3 separate regions of the Homo sapiens genome follow, and all the other regions are linked to region 1. Evidence: fine-mapped expression QTL. A gene starts in region 1. Each other region holds a variant in brackets. All regions are shown on one strand. Distances are from middle to middle.

The links. PIP is the estimated chance that this variant, and not a neighbour inherited with it, causes the effect.
Region 2: its variant is the best candidate, but not a certain one, in a credible set for the expression of HYAL3 in fetal neocortex (Walker 2019, PIP 0.53).
Region 3: its variant is the best candidate, but not a certain one, in a credible set for the expression of HYAL3 in whole blood (TOPMed, PIP 0.50).

Annotation. Positions count from the first base shown.
Region 1 is chr3:50,296,106-50,302,458 of GRCh38, reverse strand. HYAL3 (hyaluronidase 3) reads left to right here and starts at 3,054. Exons shown (of 4, transcript NM_003549.4): 1 at 3,054-3,246. NAA80 (N-alpha-acetyltransferase 80, NatH catalytic subunit) reads left to right here and starts at 3,054. Exons shown (of 2, transcript NM_001200016.2): 1 at 3,054-3,246; 2 at 4,787-6,057. The coding sequence starts at 4,996. The coding sequence ends at 5,856. HYAL1 (hyaluronidase 1) reads left to right here. Exons shown (of 4, transcript NM_033159.4): 2 at 1-402; 3 at 1,382-1,471; 4 at 1,659-2,566. The coding sequence ends at 1,976. RefSeq lists an enhancer at 3,321-3,460.
Region 2 is chr3:50,241,290-50,251,725 of GRCh38, reverse strand. All of the region lies in intron 1 of GNAI2 (G protein subunit alpha i2), which reads right to left. Among named protein-coding and RNA genes, the nearest start is that of GNAI2, 10 kb to the right of the region's middle. RefSeq lists enhancers at 4,656-5,371, 5,540-5,639, 5,372-6,087, 7,707-8,316, 8,249-8,608 and 3 more and a silencer at 10,139-10,188. The variant A/G (reference allele first, on the strand shown) is at 5,721.
Region 3 is chr3:50,215,086-50,225,521 of GRCh38, reverse strand. It overlaps SLC38A3 (solute carrier family 38 member 3), which reads right to left. Exons shown (of 16, transcript NM_006841.6): 5 at 10,063-10,136; 6 at 9,886-9,978; 7 at 9,701-9,782; 8 at 8,202-8,284; 9 at 8,049-8,107; 10 at 7,682-7,846; 11 at 7,526-7,605; 12 at 7,152-7,252; 13 at 6,805-6,929; 14 at 6,574-6,718; 15 at 5,538-5,641; 16 at 4,036-5,449. The coding sequence ends at 5,345. Among named protein-coding and RNA genes, the nearest start is that of MIR5787, 7.1 kb to the left of the region's middle. RefSeq lists enhancers at 4,479-4,979, 4,980-5,480, 5,850-6,019. The variant T/C (reference allele first, on the strand shown) is at 5,056.

The sequences.
Region 1 (6,353 bases):
GTGGAGGCAGTAGCCCAGGACCAGTTCCAGGGAGCTGCACGGGCCTGGATGGCAGGCACCCTCCAGCTGGGGCGGGCACTGCGTCCTCGCGGCCTCTGGGGCTTCTATGGCTTCCCTGACTGCTACAACTATGACTTTCTAAGCCCCAACTACACCGGCCAGTGCCCATCAGGCATCCGTGCCCAAAATGACCAGCTAGGGTGGCTGTGGGGCCAGAGCCGTGCCCTCTATCCCAGCATCTACATGCCCGCAGTGCTGGAGGGCACAGGGAAGTCACAGATGTATGTGCAACACCGTGTGGCCGAGGCATTCCGTGTGGCTGTGGCTGCTGGTGACCCCAATCTGCCGGTGCTGCCCTATGTCCAGATCTTCTATGACACGACAAACCACTTTCTGCCCCTGGTGAGTCTTCTGTAACCTGCCCACCTTGTCAACCTGCCTTGTCAGATATTAGGTCCAGCCTTGGGGTACTTTAGCTTTGGGACATTTTCTTCGTTTTTTTTTTTTTGAGACAGAGTCTCACTCTGTCACCCAGGCTGGAGTGCAGTGGCACGATCTTGGCTCACTGCAAGCTCTGCCTCCCGGGTTCATGCCATTCTCCTGCCTCAGCCTCCGAGTAGCTGGGATACAGGCGCCCGCCACCACACCCAGCTAATTTTTTGTATTTTTTAGTAGAGTCAGGGTTTCACTGTGTTAGCCAGGATGGTCTCAATCTCCTGACCTCGTGATCCATCCGCCTCGGCCTCCCAAAGTGCTGGGATTACAGGCGTGAGCCACCGCGCCCGGCCCCCAACCTTGGGACATTTTCATCCATTCATTCATCCTTTTTTTTTTTTTTTTTTTGAGACGGAGTCTTGCTCTGTCACCCAGGCTGGAGTGCAGGGGCAAGATCTCAGCTCCTGCACCCTCCACCTTCCGGATTCAAGTGATTCTCCTGCCTCAGCCTCCCAAGTAGTTGGGATTACAGGCATGCCATCAACATGTCTGGCTAATTTTTGTATTTTTAGTAGAAATGGGGTTTCACCATGTTGGCCAGGCTGGTCTCGAACTCCTGACTTCAGGTGATCCTCCCACCTCAGCCTCCCAAAGTGCTGGGATTACAGGTATGAGCCACCGCGCCTGGCGCATGGGCACATCCATTGAGTGTGCACTTGGTGCCAAGTTCTGTGCCAGGCACAGGCAATTCAACATTTATTGGAATGATGTAGTCCCTGTCTGCATGGAATTCATAGGCTAGAGGAGGAAGCAGTTTGCCTCTGGTCCCATGGCCAGAGCAGCCCCAGGTGAAGGTTATGAATTATTTGTCCCATCTAATGGTGTTCCAGCAGTCTGCCACATGGTGGGAAGGAGGCCCCACAGAGCTGTGCTGTCTCCTTCCCAGGATGAGCTGGAGCACAGCCTGGGGGAGAGTGCGGCCCAGGGGGCAGCTGGAGTGGTGCTCTGGGTGAGCTGGGAAAATACAAGAACCAAGGTGAGCTTAGGCCTGGCATGAGGGTGGGGGTGGGGGAGGGGTGGGGCCATTAAGCTGACGGGGTAGACCCTGACTTACCCTTTCTACCTGCAAAGTCCTGGCTGACCAGCAGGTGAGTGCCTCAGTGCCCTGGGTGGGTCCATACATGGCCATGGTGTCCCTGACGCTATCCTCCCTTCCCACCTAGGAATCATGTCAGGCCATCAAGGAGTATATGGACACTACACTGGGGCCCTTCATCCTGAACGTGACCAGTGGGGCCCTTCTCTGCAGTCAAGCCCTGTGCTCCGGCCATGGCCGCTGTGTCCGCCGCACCAGCCACCCCAAAGCCCTCCTCCTCCTTAACCCTGCCAGTTTCTCCATCCAGCTCACGCCTGGTGGTGGGCCCCTGAGCCTGCGGGGTGCCCTCTCACTTGAAGATCAGGCACAGATGGCTGTGGAGTTCAAATGTCGATGCTACCCTGGCTGGCAGGCACCGTGGTGTGAGCGGAAGAGCATGTGGTGATTGGCCACACACTGAGTTGCACATATTGAGAACCTAATGCACTCTGGGTCTGGCCAGGGCTTCCTCAAATACATGCACAGTCATACAAGTCATGGTCACAGTAAAGAGTACACTCAGCCACTGTCACAGGCATATTCCCTGCACACACATGCATACTTACAGACTGGAATAGTGGCATAAGGAGTTAGAACCACAGCAGACACCATTCATTCCATGTCCATATGCATCTACTTGGCAAGGTCATAGACAATTCCTCCAGAGACACTGAGCCAGTCTTTGAACTGCAGCAATCACAAAGGCTGACATTCACTGAGTGCCTACTCTTTGCCAATCCCCGTGCTAAGCGTTTTATGTGGACTTATTCATTCCTCACAATGAGGCTATGAGGAAACTGAGTCACTCACATTGAGAGTAAGCACGTTGCCCAAGGTTGCACAGCAAGAAAAGGGAGAAGTTGAGATTCAAACCCAGGCTGTCTAGCTCCGGGGGTACAGCCCTTGCACTCCTACTGAGTTTGTGGTAACCAGCCCTGCACGACCCCTGAATCTGCTGAGAGGCACCAGTCCAGCAAATAAAGCAGTCATGATTTACTTAGCTGTTTACTGAGCGCCTAAAATGTCCAGGCCCCGGTATCCAAAGGGCACAGGAAAGGCTTGTCACTCTCACCAGATCTGACGTCAGTCTAAGGGCGGCTGCTTCCCAGGGTGGGGCCCAAATTTCAAGAGGAAGCCCCACCTGATCGGACCGTTTCCAAGCTGTCCTGGGGCAGGAGGCCGGCGGGAACCGAAGCTAGACTTGTCAGAGCCTGGGGCGGGGCTGGCGGAGGCAGAGCCAGCTGGAGGCGGGGCCTGCGCCTGGCTGAAGTGACGTGCTGGGCTGGGGCAGGGCCTGGAAGAAGCCAAATCGAGGCGGGACCTAAGCTGTGACGCAAGGAGAAGGAGGAGGGGCCTGTATGGGGCCGGGTGGGGAGGAGGCGGACTCAAATGGAGATGGGGTGGGGCTCAGCAGGGGCGGAGCCAGGGTAGAGACTGAGTCGGCGCCTGGCGGGTGTTGTGACGCGCAAACCAGGGGCGGGTTCTAAGCGGCGACGCGCGGGTGCTGGGAGGCCTTAGAACGCCGTGGCGTGCCGCAGGACGCGACGGCTGCAGAACATCCGCCGCACCGCTGGGGGCCAACGTTGTCGGACCGAGGAGTCCGAGGTGGCGACTGAGTGAGATACCCAGCTGTGCGGAGCTAGGACGCGGAACATCCCAGAGGCCAGCATCAACATGTCAGTACCGCACCCTTCCCATTTGCTGCCTGTAGGTCCACCCCGCGCGTGCGGTCCCCAAGTGGCCATGCCACCCTGCACGCCCTCCCCGCGTCAGTCGTTCGTTTCCAGACCATGCCGAGCCACACCTGCCCACAGAGTCGAGCTCTCGAAGTCCTCATTCCCAAAAGCTCCACAGCCTGTGACCCACTAGGAGGGAGGGGGAAACCGAGGCCCGGGAGAGACGGAGAAGCCACTCTCTGAGGACCCCGGAGCCCCGCCCACAGTGGGTGGGGTCGGCACTGAAGGGGTTAAGGCCGCGGGGAAGCCCCGGGCTCAGCCCTAGGGGCGGATCCTGGGGCTTCCTCCCTCTAGACCAAAGGGTGCGGCTGCTGCAGAGGTGGCTGATGCAGGTGAGGGGCTTACAGCCCTGTGAATGGTGTGGGAGGTGAGGGGAGGGGGGTGCCTGTTACTGACCAGTGTTTAATTGGCCTCAAGCTCAGGAGAGGTAAGGGGAGCCAGGAGGCCCCCTCTGGAGCAGGTGAGTAGAAGGAGGGGGCTCAGCTGCCCGCCCACGACTAGAAAACCCCCAGCATAGACCTGCCGGACGGCAGGACCTTGGTTAAGATGGGAAAACAGTAGGGTTTGGGCACAGGAGGTCTGGGCCCCCAACCTGGTGACCGTTGGACACCCTGTGGATATAGGAAGGAAGCTGTGGTCCTTATCTAGGGTGCCTGCGAAACTCAAGCCAGTGGGGAACCAAGCCTGCAGAGGCAATACTGCTGTGTGACTGTGGGCCAGGCCCAGTGCTGGTGCTGCTGGGGCCCCATCTGAGGAGACAGTTGGGTCTATATCCAAAGTGTCCTGAGATGGGCAGAGTTGGGAAGGGGGCCATGGGCTCCAGGTGGGGAAGGCAGTCAAGACAGGCCAAAGCTCAGCCTGATGGGTGCATGAGTGGGGCCCCAGGATCCACTAAGGCAGTGGGCATAGCCCAGGTAGTTGAAAAGGCTGGGAGCTGGAGGAGACTCGGAACATAGGGAGAAGAAAGGGACAGGAAGACTCCCGGGCAGTTTTTCCTATGGAGGGAACCTTGGGTAGGTTTGAGCAGGGGGTATAGTGTCTGCTTTGCATCTTCTATCCCATGCCCTAGTGGTGGACTAGGAGGACTACTGGAAGACAGAAGGCCAGCAAGTAGATTGGGTCGGCTGTTTTATAGACCTGGTGGTTACAGACCCCCTGTGAGGGGAGGTCCTGAGGAGGACAAATTTGTAGCCAGAGCAGGCTGGGGCCAGGACTCCTAGGTTCTGCCCCAGCCTTAAGCAGCTCATCCATCACTCCCAGCCTCCCTCCAATGTGGGGTAGACACCTGGATCTATCTGCCCTGCTCTATAGGGGATGGGTCTCTTCCAGGTCACCTGTGCTATCAGGTGAGTGTGGGACAAAGTGCAGCCCACCACTCCCCAGTTCCAGTATGCATGGTCCCCCCTGCACTCTGTCAGCCCTTCCCTGCTCCAACCCCACCCTCCCTCCTGGCACAGCCCAGCATGGCTGTTATCTACAGGAGGAGAGCCACTGTGGTCTGAAGAGATGCTACTGCCTGGAGACTGGGGTCTTAACCTCCAGCCTGGCACTGAGCCACCTGCAACCTAGCAGCAGGTGACCTTGGCTCCCAGCCTGACTCAGCTGAACCTGGATCCTGTGCATAGGCAAGAGCTGACTCTGAGCCCTGGCCCAGCCAAGCTGACCCCTACACTAGACCCTACACACCGGATGGAGCTGATCCTGAGTACCAGCCCAGCTGAGCTGACTCTGGATCCTGCGTGCCAGCCAAAGCTGCCCCTGGATTCCACATGCCAACCAGAGATGACCTTCAATCCTGGTCCAACTGAGCTTACCCTGGATCCTGAACACCAGCCAGAGGAGACCCCAGCTCCTAGCCTGGCTGAGTTGACCCTGGAGCCTGTGCACCGCCGACCCGAGCTCCTGGATGCTTGTGCTGACCTCATCAATGATCAGTGGCCCCGCAGCCGCACCTCCCGCCTGCACTCCCTGGGCCAGTCCTCAGATGCCTTCCCCCTCTGCCTGATGCTGCTAAGCCCCCACCCCACACTTGAAGCAGCACCCGTTGTGGTGGGCCATGCCCGCCTGTCACGGGTGCTGAACCAGCCCCAGAGCCTCTTAGTGGAGACAGTGGTGGTGGCCCGGGCCCTGAGGGGCCGTGGCTTTGGCCGCCGCCTCATGGAGGGCCTGGAGGTCTTTGCTCGGGCCCGGGGCTTCCGCAAGCTGCATCTCACCACCCATGACCAGGTGCACTTCTATACCCACCTGGGCTACCAGCTGGGTGAGCCTGTGCAGGGCCTGGTCTTCACCAGCAGACGGCTGCCTGCCACCCTGCTTAATGCCTTCCCCACAGCCCCCTCTCCCCGGCCACCCAGGAAGGCCCCAAACCTGACTGCCCAAGCTGCCCCAAGGGGTCCCAAGGGACCTCCATTGCCACCACCCCCTCCCCTACCTGAGTGCCTGACCATCTCACCCCCAGTTCCATCAGGGCCCCCTTCAAAAAGCCTGCTGGAGACACAATATCAAAATGTGAGGGGGCGCCCCATATTCTGGATGGAAAAAGACATCTGAGGCCATCCAGGGCAAGGAACTGTCTTTCTGGTTCAATAGACTGCCCCGACAGTCTACAAGCCTCAGCCCACTGACCATACCTCAGCCCCTAGCCCCTGGGGGGCAGCTTTAACCTGGGCATGTTTCCTGGGTACCAGTGGGGCCAGGAGGTGGCTCTGGCTCAGAGCCGTCAGTGTGGCTGAATAAAGGCTCTCTTGGGTATGGCTGTGACAGTTTATTTGTTGATCCCCCTACCCTCACCTCTCACCTCTTCTGCAGGTCCCTTATCCCTGCAGAAGTCTCCAGATCCACCTTGGCCCTGAGGCCATTGATGGGAGGATGCCTGTCCTTTGCCTTTACCCCCCACCTGGCTCAGGAGACAGGGTGGCTGTTTTCTTCCCCATTCACTCATTACCATTCACTGAGCACCTACTGTGTGTCAAGCCCTGGACGGGACATAGGCAATGGGTAACTAGACAAACAGGCATACAGTAGCAGGATCCATGTGGCACAGGGGA
Region 2 (10,436 bases), 53 kb after region 1:
CCAATATGGTGCCCTGGGCAGAGCTGGCAGGAAGATGCCCTGCATACTCCATCCAACAGGGTAGCAGCCCTTCTTCTCCCCACACTGAGCCTTAGCAACCAGGGGCCTAAGCAGGAGCACAGCGTCACACTTCAGCTTTCTGGACATGGCCCAATGCCCCGCCCTCTGCTCACTGCGCTCAGGTCTGCCCTGAGCAGATGGAGGCTAGAAGGCTAGAATCTAGGAGACCTACAGTGTAACACACACGCGTACTGACTCATGAATCTGGGAGACCTGCGGCGTATCTCACACACCCACACCCACACACGCCCATACTGACTCAAGCTTTTCCCTGGCCTGGTACAGCCCTGGCCCATATTTCTCTTTAGCTGGTACTGAGATTTGCTGCATTCTCTCCTGTATTAGTCACAGCAGATACTGTTTCTGTTCCCATTCTACAGATGAGGACATTGAGGCTCAGAAAAATAAAGTATTGATCTAAGATCATGTAGCCAGGACTCAGAAGGGCAAGAGGGTGGAGGGAACCCATGATGCCTGGTCCACCCTGCCATTCTCAAAATGTGGCTGAGACCCTGCGGGACAATGCCTTGGGGAGGTGTTTAAAAAAGCAGATTCCGCCGGGAGTGGTGGCTCATGCCTGTAATCCCAGCACTTTGGGAGGCTGAGGCAGGTGGATCACCTGAGGTCAGGAGTTCGAGACCAGCCTGGCCAACATGTTGAAACCCCATCTCTTCTAAAAATAACAAAAACTAGCCAGGCGTGGTGGCAGGTGCCTGTAATCCCAGCGGCTCGGGAGGCTGAGGCAGAAGAATCGCTTGAACCTGGGAGGTGGAGGTTGCAGTGAGCCGAGATTGTGCCATTGCGCTCCAGCCTGGGCAACAAGAGCGAAACTTGGTCTAAAAAAAAAAAAAAAAAGCAGACTCCCAGGTCCCATCCCAGACAACAGAGCCAGATCTTGAGGAGTGCAGCCCAGGAGCCTGTATTACCCAGGGAGTCTGTGTAAAGAAGGACCAGGGGGGCCACCCAACTCCCTGGCTGGGGGCCAGAGGGAGTGGAGGCAGGGCCTCACCTTGACCTTGCTCCCTTGCTGCTGGCTTGTCTTGAGCTCCAGGTTGAATGGCCCCCAGCTGGGCCCTGCTGTCCTTCCCAGACCCTGTGCTCCTGCTCCATCACTGCCAGTCACACCTGCAGCTGCCAGGCACTACCTCTAGCTATCTCCAGGGCCCTGCTCATGCTGTTCTCTTTGCCGGGAATACGTGCCCCATGCCCCATTCACAGTGTCCCAATTCTGATCACTGTGGCACGTTTGTTCCTCTGTGCAGCTTAGCTGGGTGGGTAGTAAGGTCTGTGCAGAGGTCAAACTTGGGTACTCTGGCCAAGCTCAACAGCATCCCTTGGGGCTGGTCAAAACAACCTCAGAGGATGAAGGTGCTAACACACAAACGAACACAAGCAGTAACAATAACATCGGCAATATCGACAGCAAAGCTATATGAAAACAGCGCCCACCATGTGCCAGATGCTGCTCTACATCAATGACACCCACCAACTGCCATCTCCACAGCAATCCTGGGAGGTAGGTTCCATTCTCACCCCAATCTAACCAGTGAAGGAACTGAGGTCCAGGGAGGCTGAGGTCACAGGGTTAGAGTCCCCTCTGCAGGGAGCACACTTGCCCACCGTGCAGTCCCTCCTAGAGCTGTCCTAAGTACCTGGTACTGCAGCGGAGCCACACAGTCCACCTGGCACTGGGTTCACTCCCTAGCTCCCCAGGCAGACTCTGGGCCATGTCTGCAGTGCTCAACAAGCGGCAGCAGGCATTGGGACATGGTGGCAGGCCTTGCCAAGGCCCCTGCCCACCTTCAGCCCCCTACGCCAGAGACCACCCTGAGGGGAAAGGCCTGAGCCCTCCTCACAAATGCCATCAGGCGCCTGCAATCACTGAGCTTCTGACTGTCCCAGGCCTGCTTTCCAGGATGAGGGGAGGGGATCTGGGGAGATGGGGAGTGACAGCTAGTTGGGTATGAAGTTTATTTTTGAGGGTGGTGATTATGTTCTGGAATTAGATAGCAGTGATGGTTGCACAATCTTGTGGACATACAAATGTGCAGGCCCTGGGAAGGCTGGGGCGCTGTGGCTGGGGCAGCAATCCCCTCTATTGCTTTAGCCCCTGGGCACTACAGGGGCCGGGCCCAGTATCTTCACTGGGGTGTGTACCGGGATATATACCAGCACCACTCCCTCCCCATTGGGCTGTGCATGGCAAAGGGGCAGCCAGGATCTGCATACCAACACTCCTCCACCTGCCAATGAGGACATGGGGAAAGGTCCCAGGAAAGCCTCACAGCGATGCCTGAACACTTAAGGCCCATCCCCCTGGGGCTCAAAGCACCCACTGGGGCAGGGAGGGCAGCAGTGGCTACCTGACTGTCTTCCCCACTGGCTCCTCCAGAGCAGGAGGAAGAACCAGGAGCCAGTCACAGCCAGGATGGGGGGAACTGCAGGAGCAGAGGCCAAGGATGCGAAGTCATGGGTCCCCATGCAGTCCCGAGCCAGGCGAGCTCAGACTCAGCAGGGAAGCTACCCAGGGCATGGGGGACCTGAGGTCTAGGGTGAAAGCTTCCCCATCTTGTGTGACTTCGGGACTCCTGCCCACTTGAGGCATCAGTTTCCCTATCTGGCCACTGAGAGTGAAGAGGGGGTCTGGCCTTTTGCCCACTCTTAGTAGGTGATGTGGGCCGCTTCGTGACCCTGCCCAGGGACGAGGGTGCAAACTTGCTTTGCATCTGATTTTCCTAGCAGCAGCTAGACCTGGTAGACATGAGGTAGGCAGCACAGAGCCAGTCACACTAGGAGCCAGGATATCTGCTCCCTGCCCCAGCCAGGGAGGGCCCACTTCCCTGTCCCCTTCAAGTTTCATTTTCCCCTCCTAAGGCCTCTTAAATGTTAAGAGAACATTCTCTATCCCAAGCAGGGGTCACTGAAAAAAGAGTTCCACTTGACAGGTAAGCAAATCAAGGTCATGGAGCCCCTATCCCTAGACTCAGGCTGGTCTCTTTGTCTTTCCAGCAGCTGTGACTCAGGCGGGAAGTAGTGAGTGGCAGGACAAGGGTGTGGTGCTGGCAGCCAGGCAGGAAGCAGGGGGAACAACGGGACAGAGGCAGGGGCACAGCCCAGGAGCAGCTCCAGCAGAGAAGGGGGACAGGAGCAGAGGTGGGTGGAGCCCCAGGATGGCATCTGGGTGGAATGGGTGGGGTGAAGAGCTCTCGGGCAGCCCACAGGCTAAGTGCCCTGGCAGCTGTGGGGTAGTAGCTTCACTCTCCCCATCTCTGGCTGGGTCCTCTTTCCATCAGGACCTGAGGGATGCCCCCTACCAGATAAGCTGGCAAGAGGCTTATCTGTGAGTTTTGCACACACCCAGCTCCCCTCGCACCTGCCTCTCAGAGGGGTGGCTGAGTCCAGATTTTTTTTTTGAAACACAGTCTCGCTCTGTTGCTCAGGCTGGAGTGCAATAGCATGATCTTGGCTCACTGCAACCTTTGCCTCCCGGTTCAACCTCTGCCTCCCGGTTCAAGCAATTCTCCTGCCTCAGCCTCCCCAGTAGCTGGGACTACAGGCATGTGCCACCACGCCCGGCTAATTTTTGTATTTTTAGTAGAGACAGGGTTTCACCATGTTGGCCAGGCTGGTCTCGAACTCCTGACCTCAAGTGATCCACCTGCTTTGGCCTCCCAAAGTGCTGGGATTACAGGCGTGAGCCACCGCGTCCAGCCTGAGTCCAGATTTCTGCAAAGATGCTGGGTAGGGGAACTGAGGCAATAGAAGGTGGCATGAATCAGCCCCTCCTGCCCGCAGAGGGCCCCACCAAGTGCTCTGTCCCCAGCTGGGTAAGACCAGAGAGGCCTGCAGAGGTTCCCTGGGGTGGCCTTGGCATTCCCACTGAGTCACACCTCTTCCCACCAAGGAAGAAACCTCTGCAGCCTTTGCCCTGTGGCGCAGTTAGGGCCCACAGCAGGTAGGCAGTAATCATAGTGATGTGCTGGGTGGTGGCAGCTGCTCTGCACTAGAACATCTGCTTCCACTTTGGGAGTGCTGAGCCCCAGAGGAGGGAACCGATGAGAGAAGGGAGACAGTACCACTCCACCTGCGTGAACAAGACCAGCAGGGCCCCTGCAGCAGGAGAGACAGGCCCACAGGTCTTGTCACTTGATGCTTAGTCCAGGCCCCAGCATTCAAGTCACAGCATCTGTTCATCTTGGACCCTCTAACTCCTTAATAGGCTTTGATCTGCTGGGAGGCTGGGACTTGCTACTATCCTTTCTGGCTTCAGTTTCCCCTGGGCAGAGCTGTCAAGCCTCAAGCAGCCAGCCAGCCTGCCTCCCATTTTCAGATCCTCTCCCAGAAGGAGGTCCAGACTTGCCACAGCCCTGATGTCCACTCTGATCCTTCCTGAGATCCTCAAGAGCTTCAGCTCCTTTCCTGCCCTTTCTCTGGCACCTCATCTGTGAAATGGGACAACGCTGTCTCCTTCTGAGAGATGGGTAAGGATTAAATGCAAAGCTCTTCTCACAGTGTGGGGCACATGTGAGCATTCAGGTAAAAGTTATCACTATTTATCTACCCTTTGAAAGAGTACAGATTTCCCCAAACCTCTCATTTCCTGCAACCTGCAGAGAAGACTGCTGTGGTCATCTCATTTGAAGGAAAGCTTCTGAAGATTTTCAGATAAAGAGCAGATGAAGAGCAATGGACAGCGGCTAACAGGCTGATTCAGAGCTGTGGTGGTTCCCTGCTGGGACTCAGCATAACCTGGGACAGGAGTCAGAGCTACTGGCTCCTCTGTTGGCTTTCCGCTGTGTCGTCACTTCCCTTCAGTATAACCCGGCACTCCTACACAGCTGGGGCCTCCTTCCTGCCCAGGAGCCTCACTGCTGACATTGCTCACTGGCTGCACACACCCAGAAAGCCAGGCACACCTCCCTGGAGAGAACCCCCATACTGGTGGGCTCCGTGGGAACACGTGGGGCCAGGAAGAGCAGCCAGCTGACGTGGCAGGCCCGAGGGCAGAGATTCTCAGAAGCAGCAGCGGCTGGGACCACAGGGTAGACTTGGGCAGCGGCCCAGCTCAAACCCACAACACCAGGCCCGCCCACACTGCCACAACTCCCCAGCCTATCCCAGTGGGATATGGTGGGGCAGGTGGGGGTAGCCCTGAGCCCACCACAAAGGCAGCCCGGACACCACCTCCTTCTCTTATCCCAGGAAGGTGCCACATCTCCAGCTCAGCCTGTGGTTCTCAGATCCCGTGCACCCCCACGTCCCCTGCAGTCCTAGGGACCCATGCCCCGCCACCACCAGGGGGCGCCCGGCAGCCGGAGACACTGTGGAAGGAAGTGGGGGCTGGGCAGCACTGGGGAGCGTTTTGTTTCAGAAAAGCAGCCTCAGCCAGGGGCGACTGGGGAAGGTGTCCCACCCACCAGCCCGTCCCTGGGAAGCCCCCAGCCTGCAGAGACTCGGCACACACAGAAACCATGGCAACGGGAGGGAGGGGCAGAGACCCCGCCAGACAAAGGCCCTCTGAGCCCCGCCCCTGGCGTCTCTTCCTTCCTCCAGGTGCTGCTCCCCGGCCCCCCTCATTCCCTCCGAGAAGGCTCAGCACGGGTCCGGCACTGGGAGGCAGGGACTCGAGGTCTTGAAAGGGACCGGCAACACTCCCACCC[A/G]TGTGTGTGGCATGGCCCTATAACGGATGCCTGAACAGACCAACAGACTCCACACCTCCCTCCCGCCAGTCTCTGGCACTCGGCTGCCTCCAGCGGCTTCCAGGGGTTCACAGTGCCCAAAGGGGAGCACTACCAAGCAGGGCCTGGCTTCCTACTGCCAAGTCAGAGATCTCTGTGTTAGGGAAACTGAGGCCTCAGGTCCTGCCCACACATGGGAAAGTCTTTCTGGGGCAAGGTGTGTCTCCCTCAGTGGGGCCCTTTCCACTGCACAGAGGGAAACTCAGGCACCGGGTGAGGAAGGCTGGCCTGATATAAAGGAGGCCCCAGACCTGTTCATCGCTGGCGCCTCAGGCCCCAGGTACCGCCTGTGCAGGAGCCAGGAGGTGCTGGACAAGACGCGGATCACGCGGAGCTGGGCCATTTGGCACCGTCTCCCTGGAGGCCTCTTCATTTCAGGCATCCCTCCGCTGTTCCCAAGGCACCTGAATGACCTCTTTTCCCTTCTGATTCATGGCGGTGGACTCTGGGAAAGATAACGGGAGCCTAGGCCTCATCTATGAAATGTACCCCTTGAGGGAGGGTGCCAAACCCAAGGCCTGCCCTGAGTAGCCTCTTCAAAGTCACCCCAAACTGCCTCAGGGCCCAACCCAAGCCAGCAGCTGTCCTTGTGTCCACAGGCCAGGAGACCATGCTAAGAATCACGGCACTGGCGGGGCGGGGTGGCTCACGCCTGTATTCCCAGCACTTTGGGAGGCTGAGGTGGGCGGATCACCTGAGGTCAGGAGTTCGAGACCAGCCTGACCAACATGGAGAAACCCTGTCTCTACTAAAAATACAAAATTAGCCGGGCATGGTGGCACATGCCTGTAATCCCAGCTACTCTGGAGGCTGAGGCAGGAGAATCACTTAAACCTGGGAGGCGGAGGTTGTGGTGAGCCGAGATTGCATCACTGCACTCTAGCCTGGGCAACAAGAGCGAAACTCAGTCTCAGAAAAAAAAAAAAAAAATCACAGCATCACAGATTCTAGTGCTGGATACAGAGAGGGAAGAGGACAGTCTGAGGTCTCATGGTGAGGAACTGGACCCTCTGGGACCCACAGTCTTGGGTGGCCATGAGGATGCACGGGTCTCTGCTCTGTGCATGGCTTCATGGCCCAGAGAGGCTTGGACGCTTCTGCTCTGGCTCTCCTAAGCCTTCCTCAGCCCCCTCAGTCCCTTACGGCCTGGCCTGGCAACACAGCAGAACCCCTAGGAACCCCTACAAGAGAGGGCAAGGCCCCACTAGGCCACAGCACTGAGATTCGGAGGCCAAGGAGCAAGAGGAACCAGCCTCAACAACTATCATGCAGTCATCAGCCAACACCATGGCCACATTCTACCACCACACAGTACCGTACGTGCACCCAGCACTGAGCCTGTGCTCACAGTGCAGCCCTAAGGAACATGCTTTCATTTCACTCCTCTGGACAATTCCCAGTCTCAGAGGCCCTCACCATGGACTTCAATAGCTTCTGAGCCTTCCCCAGGCTTGGTCTCAGTCTAAGACTGGGGCTTATGGGAGAACAAGCATAATATTAGGGAAAGAATGAAGTCCTAAATTGCCAGCTATAACTTGAGCATCACTGTGAGAGGATACGGACTAGGAGAAAAAGTGGGAAGTCAAAAGGTGCAGCTGCAGCCGGGCGCAGTGGCTCACACCTGTAATCCCAGCACTCTGGGAGGCCGAGGCAGGCGAATCACTTGAGGTCAGGAGTTCGAGACCAGCCTGACCAACATGGTGAAACCCCGTCTCTATTAAAAATACAAAAATTAGTTGGGCGTGGTGGCACGTACCTGTAGTCACAGCTACTCAGGAGGCTGAGGCAGGAGAATCGCTTGAACCCAGGAGGCGGAGGTTGCAGTGAGCCGAGATCATGCCACTGCACTCCAGCCTGGGTGACAGAGTGAGACTCCATCTCAAAAAAAAAAAAAAAAAAAAAGGAGTGGAGGGGGTCCCCCATGACCACATGGCTGTAGAAAGCTTCATACACAGAGTCTTGGGTCCCACCTTCCAGGACAGACAGCTCCCTTTCCGCCTCCTAAAAGAAGAATTGAGGCCCGAAAGCCAGGGCCCATAGGCACAGGCAGAACACACACGCACCCACACCGTCTGCCTGCTGTCCTGCCTGATCCGTTACTTCCAGCCAGCACAGACTCCCAAAGGGCCATGGCAGTTGGAGGCAGGCGCTTAATCACTACATGGGTCATGTCCTGACATCTCTGTTCCCTGTTTAAGTGCATAAAGTCCCTGAGCTTCAGTTTGTCCATCAGTGAAATGGGTGTAATATCAGTCCCAGCCTCACAGGATTAAATATGACAAGATAATGAAGAATTCAGCTCCACACAACAGTCAAGGCTCAATCAGAGACAGCTGTGGTTATCACCTGAGGGGAAACAGGCCCAGTGAATGCAGCCCTAGACCCAGTGAGTGGGTGCTGGTAGGGGAGAATCCTTAGGCTGAGGCCAGGGATCCTTTGTCCGCCCCCCAGCAGGGGAAACCCAGAGTGAGCTCATCTCGGGGCTGTTGCTGCATTTCCAGGCATTCATCTCAGCCTGTGGCTGGCCTTCCGGCTTTGGAGAGCAATGGCCGCTCGGGAATCTAAGAGCAGCCCTCTGCCTTCCTGCTAGCCCTCCCGCCAGCGTCCTTCTCCCAGCCACAACTTCCTGTGGCCAAAGAAGGGGCCTGGAATCCTTCTCGAAGGCACCACCTTCTCTGGGATCTTGGGCCCGATGGTTGCTGGGGTGGGACAAGGTACAGAGCTACCTGGACTGGCTCCAACTCAGTGACCGCCACTAGAATGGCCCACAGGAGTGCAAAGATAAGCCTGGGCAGGTGTTCACCTCCTAGACCCTTCCAGTTGGCAAAGCCCTGGGGGGCCCTTGGGCTCTCACCCCCACCCTAGCACCAGGCAGCCCTCTGGCCTCTTCCTCTTTTGGGCTCCTCCTCCCCCAGCTGCTTCCTCCTTTTCCTCTGGTGTGGACACCACTTCCCCGAGAGGCCCAGCCCTGCCCTGCCATGTCGTGCAGACTTCATTACCTCCTCCTCCCGCCGGGGGCACACACAGTAGGTGCTGCCATCACCTCCTTTGCATATCCTGAGGCTGTCAGCAGCCTTGGAGCCCCCAGATTCCTCCAAGCCATAAGGATATCTTCTCCCCAACAAGGCTGAGATGACCCCACCTTTAGGCCTTTGCTCAGACTGGTGTGGTGCTGCCTTTCAAGCCTTGTAAATGTGCACAGAGGCCGGCACAGAAGAACCAGCCCAGCAAATGTTTGGTTATTCCAGAAAGATTCTTCCTCCCCAGCCACCAAGAGCAGCCACAGCCCCAAGAAGTAACATCAGGGTGAGGGTGGGGTTGGGGTTTAGTAAGAACGAGAGCTTCAAGCTAGAAGGGCTGGGTGGGGCTGGGCAGACGGGGTTCCACCCTGCACCTGTAGCTGAGGGAAGGGCTGCCTGAGAGCATCAGGTACCAGGGACACCATCAAAGGGCCCAATCCTTTGCCTTCCCCAAAGCACCTTGCAGAGCACTCTTAGGCAGGGTGTATCAGCAGTGGCCTGGCCAGAACCTGCTGACCCCTTCCCCTCCTCGCTCAACTCCTAGGCTGGGATTCCTGGCCTGAGATGCTGGGAAGATGAGACTACTCCCTGGCCTGTACCTTGCCCCCATCTGCCCGGTCCTGCCTCCCCCCACAGCACAACGGGATGTAGGGGAGGCAGCACTCAGGCTCTGGGGTGACAGTCTCCTCCTCTGCTGTGGGTGGGGTGGGGGGAGTCCCTGGTTCCTCAGTGGCTAAGAGCTTGGGTGGACAAAGCTTCCTCCATCCTGTTCCCGCCAAGTGAATGGGTGGCTTTTAGAGACAGACTGAGAGAGTCACAGCCAGGGACCAAGAACTAAGATCAACGGCAGAGTATACAGGACCTGTGTGTCTGCCTGTGGCCCAAGTAGCCCCAAGTGCACCTACTGCCCCACCCCCTGCAGTGCTGGAGGCCTAGGGACCTTGCTGGGACCTGACCACACCCCACCCTCAGCACTACCTGCTGCCACTTGCCAGGCAAACTGATGTTCAAGGGCCTGGGACATCAGTGATGGCACTCAGTGACCCTACCTCTCAGGCCACCCAGGGCCAACCGCTGACAAGCTGCCCAGGGCCAAAGGGGTCCCGGACCATCCCCAGGCCCCATCCAGCAGCCTAGGCTCTGACACATAGTGGGTGGTGTGATGCTGCCTCAGGGCTTCTGACATGGAAGCCTGTGTCCCGCAACTGGTTTGACTTCCACCTCCTGCCACAGCAGCGCGGCTCATTCTCTCTGTCCTCACACCTGCTCTGCCCTCTGTCTGGGGTTCCTCTCCCCAACCCGCCTGGGATGCCCCCAGCTGAGCTCCAGCTGCCCTGATTCACCTAGTCTCTCAGCTCAGAGGTATCCCTTAAAGGACCTAGTCTCACTCCTACCCTAGAGGTATGACCTCATGTTGGCTGCACTGACACTGGCGTGAGAGGCAGGGGCTGAGCCTAGCAGAACTGGGCAGGATGCAGGCAGAGGGGGTCAGCTATAGCTTGGACCCCTGTTCACTCCTTAGTGTGGGAGCTCTATCCCTGCCTGCTCCTGCAGACAAAGCCCCGACAAGCCTGGGGGAGGGGTGGGAAGAAGAGACTCAGAGGCCCAAGCCGCCCCG
Region 3 (10,436 bases), 79 kb after region 1:
CTTTCACTGAGCTCAAACCTACCCTCCTACCAGCTGCTTCCATTCTCTCACCTCAATACCTTCTTCTTTCCAGTCTTTCTTCCTCCCACCCACAGACGGAGTCTCACTCTGTTGCCCAGGCTGGATTGCAGTGGTGTGATCTCGGTTCACTGCAGCCTCTGCCTCTCAGGTTTAAGCAATTCTGCTTCAGCCTCCCGAGTAGCTGGGATTACAGGTGTGCGCCATCACACCTGGCTAATTTTTGTATTTTTAGTAGAGACGGGGTTTCACCATGTTGGCCAGGCTGATCTCAAACTCCTGACCTCATGATCCACCCGCCTCGGCCTCCCAAAGTGCTGGAATTACAGGCGTGAGCCACCGTGCCCGGCCAACTTTCCAGTCTTTCTTAAAAGCCACTGTTGGCTCTGCCCCTCTCACTTCACACAAGTTGTTTACACTGGCTCTTTCCAGTTCTACCTCACTTTCTCCTCTGCCCACTCCAGGCAGGCCTGTCCCTCCCTCACAAAAGTGCCCTGGTCAGGGTCCTTAGGGATCCACAGGTGTCCGAATTCAGTGGTCCATCCTCTACCCTCAACTCCTTGGCAGCATCTGACACTTACCTGGCTCCAGGTGCCCATGCTCTCCCAGTTTTCCTCTCACCTCCTGGCTACTCCCGCCCAGCTCCTTTGCTGGTTCTGCCTCATCTTCCAGGGCTCAGTGCTTACTGCCGCCCTCCTCTGTCTGAACTTAGCTTCTTCCCATCCCATGGCTTTAAACACCACTTGCTTTGCTTCCCAGATCCAAAGCTTCATCACTGGCCACTCTACTGAACTCAACGCATACACCCAGCAGTTGACTCGGCACCTGCACTTTGATGTCCAGTCAATGTTTTTTTTTTTTTTTTTTTTAGACGGAGTCTCACTCTGTCACCCAGGCTGGAGTGCAATGGTGTGGTCTCGGCTCACTGCAACCTCCGCCTCCCGGCTTCAAGCGATTCTCCTGCCTCAGCTTCCCGAGTAGCTGGGACTGCAGGCACGTGCCACACCTGGCTAATTTTTGTAGTTTTTAGTAGAGATGGGGTTTCACTATGTTGGCCAGGCTGGTCTCGAACTCCTGACCTTGTGATTCACGCGCCTCGGCCTCGCAAAGTACTGGGATTACAGGCGTGAGCCACCATGCCCTGCCGATGTCCAGTCAATGTTTTAAACTCTTCATGGACAAAACTTATCTCTCTCCCAAGCCTGCTCCTCCTCCAGCCTCCTGCAGTGGCACCTCTATCACTAGACAACCTTGGAGTCACCCTTGACTTACTTCTGCCTCTCCTCCCCTACTGGAACCATCCGGGAAGCCTGCCACCTCTACCTTTAGGACAAGCCTAGTGCCTCATCCTGCCTCTACCATCACCTGGGCTAAGACATGCAACATGATTATTTGGAATAACTACAGGAGCCCTTGTGTCAGTGTCACCCTTGCCCCCCATTCCCCACCCAGAGCCTAGTCTTAATGCAGCAGCCGGAATAATCTATTTAAAACTTAGACTTATGCCTGACACGGTGGCTCACACCTGTAATCCCAGCATTTTGGGAGGCCAAAATGGGAGAATTGCTTGAGACCAGGACTTTGAAACCAGCCTGGGAAACATGATGAGACCCTGTCTCTACAAAAAAATAGGATACAAATAAGCAGGCAGTGGTGACATGTGCTTATAGTCCCCAGCTACTCAGGAGGCTGAGGCAGGAGGGTCCCTTGAGTCTAGAAATTCAAGGCGGCAGTGAGCTGTGATCATGCCATTTGCACTCCAGCCTGGACCACAGAGCTAGACTCTGTCTCAAAAAAAAAAAAGTTCCTTTCTCAGGCCCACTCTGACCCCCGTCCCCCACCTCCCATTTTTCTTATCTTGTTGCTTTTACTCCCTGTAGTACTGAGCATCTTCTAACCACATGATAGAATTTAGTGGTTAGGTTTAATGCTGCTTTTTTGGATCTAATCCCCATCCTGGACAGTAAGTTCAAGGAAGGCCAGGGTCTTCACTTTGTTCACTGCTTTATTTGCAGGTGCTAGATGAGTGCCTGGCGTGTAGGAACTGTCAATAAATACTTGTTGAATGAATGAATGAATGAGTCAAGAGGCAAATGTGTGCTTGTGCACACAGGTGAGAAGGGTGTGGGCAAGGGCAGCTGCTGGGCAGGGAGACTGAGACCCATGCTTTTGCCCCCCTTCCTGCTCTTATTTTTCTATAATAAGCAGTCATAAGAAAAACAGTGAAAAGAAATATAGAAGACCTTTGTGCTGGACCTTCAGGCTGCTCTAACTTATCAATATTCCAAACAGAACAATTTTTCCAGAACTATTTATTTATTTATTATTATTATTATTCTTTGAGATGGAGTTTGGCTCTTGTTGCCCAGGCTGGAGTGCAATGGCTTGATCTTGGCTCACCTCAACCTCCACCTCCCGGGTTCAAGCGATTCTCCTGCCTCAGCCTCCCAAGTAGCTGGGATTACAGGCATGCGCCACCATGCCTGGCTAATTTTTTGTATTTTTAGTAGAGACGGGGTTTCTCCATGTTGGTCAGGCTGGTCTCGAACTCCTGACCTCAGGTGATCCGCCTGCCTCAGCCTCCGAAAGTGCCGGGATTACAGGTGTGAGCCACCACACCCGGCCTAGAACTATTTATTTATCTATTTGTTTGTTTATTTATTTTTTGAGACAGAGTCTTGCTCTGTTGCCCAGGCTGGAGTGCAGTAGCACAATTACAACTCACTGCAGCCTCAGTCACCCAGGCCCAAGTGATCCTCCTGCCTCAGCCTCCTGAATAGCTGGGACTACAGGCATGAGCCACCACACCCTGCTAATTTTTCAATTTTTTTTTCTTTTTTTAGAGACGAGGTTTCACCATGTTGCCCAGGTTGGTCTTGAAATCTTGAGTTCAAGTAGTCTGCCCACCTCGGCTTCCCAAAGTGCTGGGATTACAGGTGTGAGCCACCATGCCCGGCCCCAGAACAATTTTTTAAAAGGTAACAAAGGAAAAAAACTGGAAAAATTTTCAACACATACTCAAATGATTAATGATGCCTGAGGGCCTGCAGATCATGGAGGCCAAGTGTCTGGAATTTAACAGCCAGGGACAAGGGATACTCATTTTCAAACAGTCATGTGGACACTTGGCTCTTGAATCTAGTGTAGTGGTCACATTACCTGCCTCCTCCCTGCCGGAGCCTGCTGCCCATGGTCAGGCTGGAGGAGGCCTGACTGGGCAAGCAGAGCTGGCCTCTTGGGGCCAGGGCCCAGGGTCCTTCCCCACCCCATTTGTGTGTATGTGTATGCATGGGGGGTGCTACTGTTAGCACATCCCCTTGGTCTGAGGGGCCTGAAGCCAGACCTGGTGTCCTGCTGCTGCTCTGACCTGCAGCCTTCTTTGGATGGAGGGAGTATAAGAGAAAACCCCCAGGTCTGCCTGCAGGATGGACTTGCCCTTCATTGACCCCCACTGCCCAGGAGCCAAGGGTTCCAGGCAAGGTTATGGCCCCATCGAGACCTCTAGAGGGCAGCCCCTCTCATCAGAACACACTGCGCTGCATCTACCTCTAGGCCAGTGACCAGCTCTTTCCTGGGGCCACAGGGCTCCTGGGTGAGTCCCCAGCCTGGAGTCAGGCGCCTGGGCCTGATGGGAACAGGACTCAGGAAGCTCCCCTCGGCTGAGCTGGCACTGCCGTGGGCCTAGCAGCCACCGGCTTGAGGAAGTTCTTTCTTCAGGGTTTTCCCGAGCTGGCAGCTGCCTTGCAAATTCAAACTGGATCTTTCCTGCAGCCCTTTCCCCGGCGGCCTAGCCTGGTGCAGGGTCTCTCCTAATGAGGGTTTGGTGCCAAGGCCTGGGCAGCTCCATCCCACTGGATCCCAGCTGGTTCAGGCCTGCCCAAGGCAGTGGGCAGCTTCCCAGTCTCACCGGGGCCAGGACACCTGGGGCTGTCCTGCTTCCTTGCAGCCCCTGCCGTACCTTGGACTCCCACCTCTCTTTGCCATTTGGGGCCCCACACACAGGGACTACTAACCCACTTTATTCGTAGTGGATTTTACTGTTGATAAAAAGATCAGCCCAACAGGGCACAGGATTCCTGGACTTTTGTCCCCAGACTCAGGGCATTGACAGAGAGTTGACATGGCAGCCTGGGAGCTAGGGGAGGGCAGGGGGCCCTTCCTGGGGCTCCCTCAGGGCTCAGCTGCCCCCAGCTCAGACCCTCCCTGAAGCTGCTGGGGATGCACCTCACGTTGCCTCCTTCCGGAGGCCTCTCTCTGTCCCACTTCCTGGGGCCTCATTAATTCCTCCCCACCTCAACCCGTGAGAAAGCAGGTCTGTGCTGAGCCTGGCCCAGGCCCAGAGCTGGGTCTGAGTGTGCCACTGGTTAGTTTGGGAGGCAGGGGGTGGGGTGGGTGGGGGACTTGCCCTGTCCCCACCCTCATCCCAGACAAGGAGACGGGGGCCCTCCATCACCATCCATGTTCTGGCCCGTACCTCACTTTCCAGGAATCCAGGGACCATGGAGACCAAGAATAGAAAACACAGCTGGTCTTATGTATAATATTTATAAAAGAGGGCTGCCAGCCTCCCCACCCTATCCCAGTGTGGCCACTGGGGTCTTTGGCTCCCGGGGGCAGGCCACTCTGGGCCTCGGCCTGTTTCTTCTCCCAGCAGTGGAATGTGAGCTGTGGCCCAGGCTTGTGGCAGGGGGAGTCCCAGCCTCCCCAGGACTGGTGAAGGGACAGGACAGGGGTCTCTTGGGGGTCCCTACACCAGCCCCACCCTCAGCAGAACCTGCTGGCCCCAGCTATGGGGTATGGGAGGGTGTCATCCTGTGAAGGGAGATGGGAGAAGAGTATCCAAGGGCCCAGGAGTCTGAAAAGGGCCTAGGGAATAAAAGGGGGGAAAACAAGTGGGCTGGGGGAGATGAGGCCCCAGGGCGCAGACCGTGGCCTAGCAGCAGGGTCGGGGGATGGCTGCAGGCTGATCCCAGCTGTGTATGTTCCTACAGGCTGTGTCACCTCAGGAGGCAGCTGCTGGGCCCCAGTGTATGCATC[T/C]GTGCAAGGAGGGAATGAGGGGCTTGGGCGGGATCTAAGGCGACAGCCCTACCCTGCTCCCAGTTCAGGAAGCCTCTACAGCTCCAGAGCCTAGCAGGGTAGTGGCCCAAGGGCCTTGGTCCTGGCTCTTGAACAAAAACCTTCCACAGAGAGGACATGGGGCCTGGCTGAATGCCACAGTGTTAATCGCGTCTTTCTCCTCCCCCGACTGGCCACTGGATGGGAGCAGGGGCTGAAGAGTCTGGGCAGGGCTGCTAGGGTGAGTAGACAGAACAGGATGAGGGTCACCCTAGTGGTTTCCTCCATGCCGGCTGGTCCCTGAGGCCCAGTCAATGATGATGAAGCTCAAGCTCATGGTCATCAGCAAGAAGCCAAGCATAGCAAAACACAGGGCCTGTGGAATCAGAAGTCAGGGTCAGGTCCGAGGTCAGGGCAGTTCCCTTAGCCCCATACCAGCCCACCGGCCTCCAGGCCCCTCGCACCAGGATTTTGGGGGTGGATCTTGCAGGCTCCTTCTCCGTGGGCATGATTCGGAAGTAGAAGATGGCAGGGAAGATGAAGATGAGGAATGGGGCAGATGTGGCACCTGCAAAGAACAAGACATGGCCACTGCTGGCTCATATCCTCCTACTGACTAAGGTTCGGGGGTGGACTCTTCAATGAGATCAAACACTCCTTGTTGAGGGAGTTTCATGTTGAGACCACTGGAGAGCTCTGCCTGATTCTAGCCCACCAGCCTCTCCCCCTTGTTCTCCATCCATGAGGATAGAAGGCTGGTGATGTTGGTGTCAGAAGAATGTCAGCCAATGAAGCTAGCAATGAGGAAAGGCAAATCAAGAGATGGAGAGAGATGAGGGCTTAAGGGTATTGGGCTCCAGGCTGCAGCTATACTTGAAGGCTTCTCCGTTATTTGAGCCAGTGGATTCCTTTCTGCTTAATTCATTTCGAGTTGGATTTCGGACATAGAGAACGAAGAGTGCTGTCCGTGATATCCATGACACTCAGCCCCCAGGTCTGTTTGTCAGTCCTGGCAGAGTTTGTTAGTCCTCTGAGTTGGATCACCCCAAAGACATTTCAGAATTGTCTGCTCTACCAGCTGAGAGCCCCATCTGGAATGAGGCAGTGGATGGAGCATCAAACTTGGAGTCCAGTGATCCTGGGGCTGAATCAAGCCCAAGGCTCCTATTCACCAGCTGTGTGGCCCTGCTGCTCCTTTAATCACTCTGAACTTTAGTTTCCTGACATGTGAAATGTGGACAAGACCCAGTGAGATCCTTTGAGGCGGCCTCTGATCCCTGGGATCCACCCCTGTCCTCCAGCAAGGGGGACTGACTCAGTGGCTCTGAGCCCTGAAAAGGGATTAGAATAGCCTATGGACAAAAGCTCAGATGGAAGGCCAAACTGTGCACATGGCCACTGCACTTAATGTAGGGTGTAAGCTCAGGAATCTGCCAGGATTTGCAGAGTTGAAATCCTCTGGGGCAATACCCTGCTTCCACAGCAGGGCCAGACCCTCACCGATGACCCCAAAGATGCCCAGGATGTTGGGGGCAAAGATGACCAGCAGGTTGATACAAGTGAGCAGGCCAACGGCAATAAGCACATGCCGCAGCCAGCTGAACTCCTGGTTTGGAAACAGCATCTGCTGGATGGCGCGGCGCACCTGGGGGGCAGGTGAGAAGAATCATCAGCCTGTTGGCCCCATCAGCCCCTCCCGCCACTAGTCTAGCCACCTGCCCACCAGCTCACCGGGAACAGAACGATGGGCACTGTGAGCGTGACTGCTGTCAGCACGGCCACGCGCACACACAGGATCAGGACGTCAAACGGGTCCACCTTGCTGTAGGTGTGCAGCAGCTCCGACTCCACCCCGTCTGTGGCAGGCAGGGAGGGTGGTCAGTAGGTGGCCCCAGGAAGGAGGTGGGATCTGAGCTGCCTAGGGGACCCCAACACTGTGGGGATTGGCATGCAGACTCACCTCCACAGCGGCAAGGCACAGCCAGGCACCACACGCCTCGGTATGGAGGGCACCATGGCCACAACCAGCCCCTTCCCCCCAGCCTAGCCTAGGCCTCTGCCCACCGGTGCCACCGTACTGTAGAAGGTGAGGTAGCCGAAGAGGGCAGCCAGGAAGTACATGATGTACATGACAGCGATGGACAGGTTGGAGATGTGCTGCATCTTCTTCTTGGAGGGGCTGTGGGGAAGTGGGGGGGTGGGTGTTGGTGACAAGCTGGGTAACATTGGGAGACCCCCATGTGCCCCAAGCTCTCTCTGGCACCATACTTTCACCATTCAGCATCTGAGGGAGTCTCCTTCTTGCTCATAATCACCTCTCATGGCTGCCAAGGACATCTCAGATAAAGTGACTTGGCTCCTGTCACTCCCCTCTCCACATTCAGGACCACATCCATTCTCCCCAAACCAGCTCAGGGCATCCCCACCCCCACTCCCAGCCACAGACACCTACTCCTTGAGCTCAGTATAGATGGGCAGCACCTCGGGGTGGCAGACGAAGGCGAAGGCCATGATGGGGATGGTGTATGCTGTCTGGGGAAACACGGGGCTGTGTCAAGGCAGTCTGCCACTCTCATTGGGCCCCCGCCTTGCCCTGACCTGTCAGAACCTGTGAGTTGAGCGTGAAGTAGCTGGGAGTGCAGAAGGCTGAAGCCTCAGGCTCGACCTGCAGCTGCACCTTCTCCTTCACGATCTCCACGTGGCTGAAGTTGCCTGTGGTGTTGTTGAAGTTGGGGGGCAGTGGGCAGGGCACGTGGAACTTTTTGTAGATGACCTGGAGTGGGGAGGGATGAGGGTGTCAGAGACTCCCAGGCTGGACTGCCTGGGAAGTCACCATGAAGCCACATCTAGATCAGGACTGGTGGAGCTGCCTTCTGGCCCAGGCTTCCCAGAGACACCTGCCCCCTCCTGATGACAGGGAACTCCCCCAGGAGACCCGCTGCCCGCTTTCTCAGCCAACATGGAGGGTGACTCACTGCAATTAGGAAGAACACCATGCAGCTAAGAGAGAAGCCGCTGGAGTAGCCCAGGTAGCCTGCAAAGTGGAGGGAGCACTCTGAGACCTGGGGCCCCTCCCATGGTGTATGCCTCCAACATCCCCTCCAAGGCTCTGACCCTTCCACACTCACCAAGCTGCCGCATCAGTGCCAGGGGCAGAATGATGGTGACAGAGACAAGGATTACCAGGTAGTTCCCGTTCATGTACCAGTCCCTGCAGGGACATGAGTCGGGAGCCAGGGTCAGAATCCATTCAGCCTGGGATGGGGCCCCTGCCTCCCTCTGCTGGAGTTACCAATGGTGCCACTGAGTGACATCTGAAGAATGTTTGTCCACAGCTCTGAGTCTCACTTTCCCCATCTGCAAAATGGGCATGCCCAGCTGGGCGCGGTGGTTCACGCCTGTAATCCCAGCACTTTGGGAGGCTGAGGTGGGTGGATCATCAGGTCAGGAGTTCGAGACCAGCCTGACCAACATGGTGAAACCCCATCTCTACTAAAAATACAAAAAAATTAGCCGGGCATGGTGGCACACGCCTATAATCTCAGCTACTCAGGAGACTGAGGCAGGAGAATCACAAGAACCCGGGAGGCAGAGGTTGCAGTGAGCCAAGATTGTGCCACTGTACTCCAGCCTGGGCGACTGAGCGAGACTCCGTCTCACAAACAAAACAAAACAAAACAAAACAAAACAAAGGGCGTGCCTTCAGTACTGTCCTTCAGGGTGACATGAGAACTAAGGTTCCAGCCTGGCACACAGCTCATGCTCAGGACCCTCTCTATTGTAGGCACTGCTGTTGCTTTTCTCAGGATACACAGGTCTGGGCCCAGCCTTTGGATGGAGGTGGGTGGGAGGAGGAAGAGGGACCTGGTTCTAGAGGGAGGTGGTATTTTCCACGGGGGTTTCTGGCACTTGCAATAACCTGTGCTCCTTGCGGTTCCTTCTGGCATCTGGGCCTTGCCTCATCCGGCCCCCTCCTCTACCCACCAGGAATGGATACGGGGCACAGAGAAACAAGGGGATAAGGGCCAGGACCATCCTCAAAGGCAAGCCCTGAGGCCAACTCCTTGGGAAAGGCCCAGGGCCCCAGCGGCAGAATCCTGGCTCTCCCTCTTGCCGGAGCTACTCTCAGCCTCCCAGCCCCTCTGCTTGCTCGGGCTGGGCTGTCAAGAGCAGGGCCTGGCTGTGTCCCCTCTGTCCCACAAAACACGTTTGATGCCCAGTCAATGCTGGCTAAAGTGATAGGCAACTGGGACACCTGGGCTTAATATCTTGGTTGGGGGGGGCAACCCCATGGTCAGGAATAGCAGGCGCTTAGAGCTAAGCCTGAGCCTCCCACGCTCACAGGCTGGGTCCGGGGTGAGGAGAGGCCCAGCTTCCTCAGCTGCACCCTGCCCCTAGCCCCACAAGCCCCTTCTGGAGGGGGGTCTCCAAGGTGCTTCCCAAGTGAGTGTGAACTGAATGCTGGCTCTGCGGGCAACTCTCCCCACTCCACCAGCTTCTTGTCTGCTTTGTCTTGTCTCTCCCACCAGCCCAGCCTGGGCCCCCCCACCCTCACCCAGCCCCACCCCACCCCACCCCTCCTCACTGCACCGCACCCCTCCCCTCCCCTCCCCACGCCAGGGCTCACGAGGTTTTCTCCTCCAGGTTCAGGAAGGTCTGTATGACAAGTGGCAGCTCAGACTTGATGATGTACAGGTAGCTGGACATGGCTGTGGGGAGAGGGGCGGGCAGGCAGGCGCTGAGGTCAGCCCAACCAGCCAGCTTTCAGGGCTGTCCACCTCCCTACTGCCTGCCCCTGCCCACTGCTCTTACCTCCGATGTTCTGGAGCGTGATGGCCAGGGCTGCTGCCAGCTTTCCTGGGGTCCCAAAGGCACGGTAGCCCAGCTGCTCATAGGCACGGATGCCTGCAGGAGCAGGGTCAAGAAGTCAGGAGCTTGTCCCAGTTTACCCACCAGCTCCCGCCCATTCCAGGCTGGTGTGAGGCTCACCCACGACCCCTGAGGACTTGAGTAGCAGGTGGATGGAGTAGCTGGAGAGCAAGGCGACAGCTGTCAACAGGAACCTGGGGACACATGGGAAGATGGAAGAAAAAGAGGCCACTGGGGGGCTACCGTGGCTGGCAGAGGGTGAGGGGCTCTGGGAGGCCTGGGGGTGGAGGGTCTGTGACCTGGGTGTCTGGACTCCCAACAGGTATGGATGCCAGCTCAGCAGGCCCCAGGGGTGATGAACACCACCCCCTTTGATCCAGGGTGCGACACACCCCAGAAGGGGCCCTCTGGGTCAAGAGTGTCCCTGTGACTGCCCTCTGAGCACGTCCTCCTCTTGAGTCCTTGAAACAAACATGTTTTCCATTCTGGCTTCA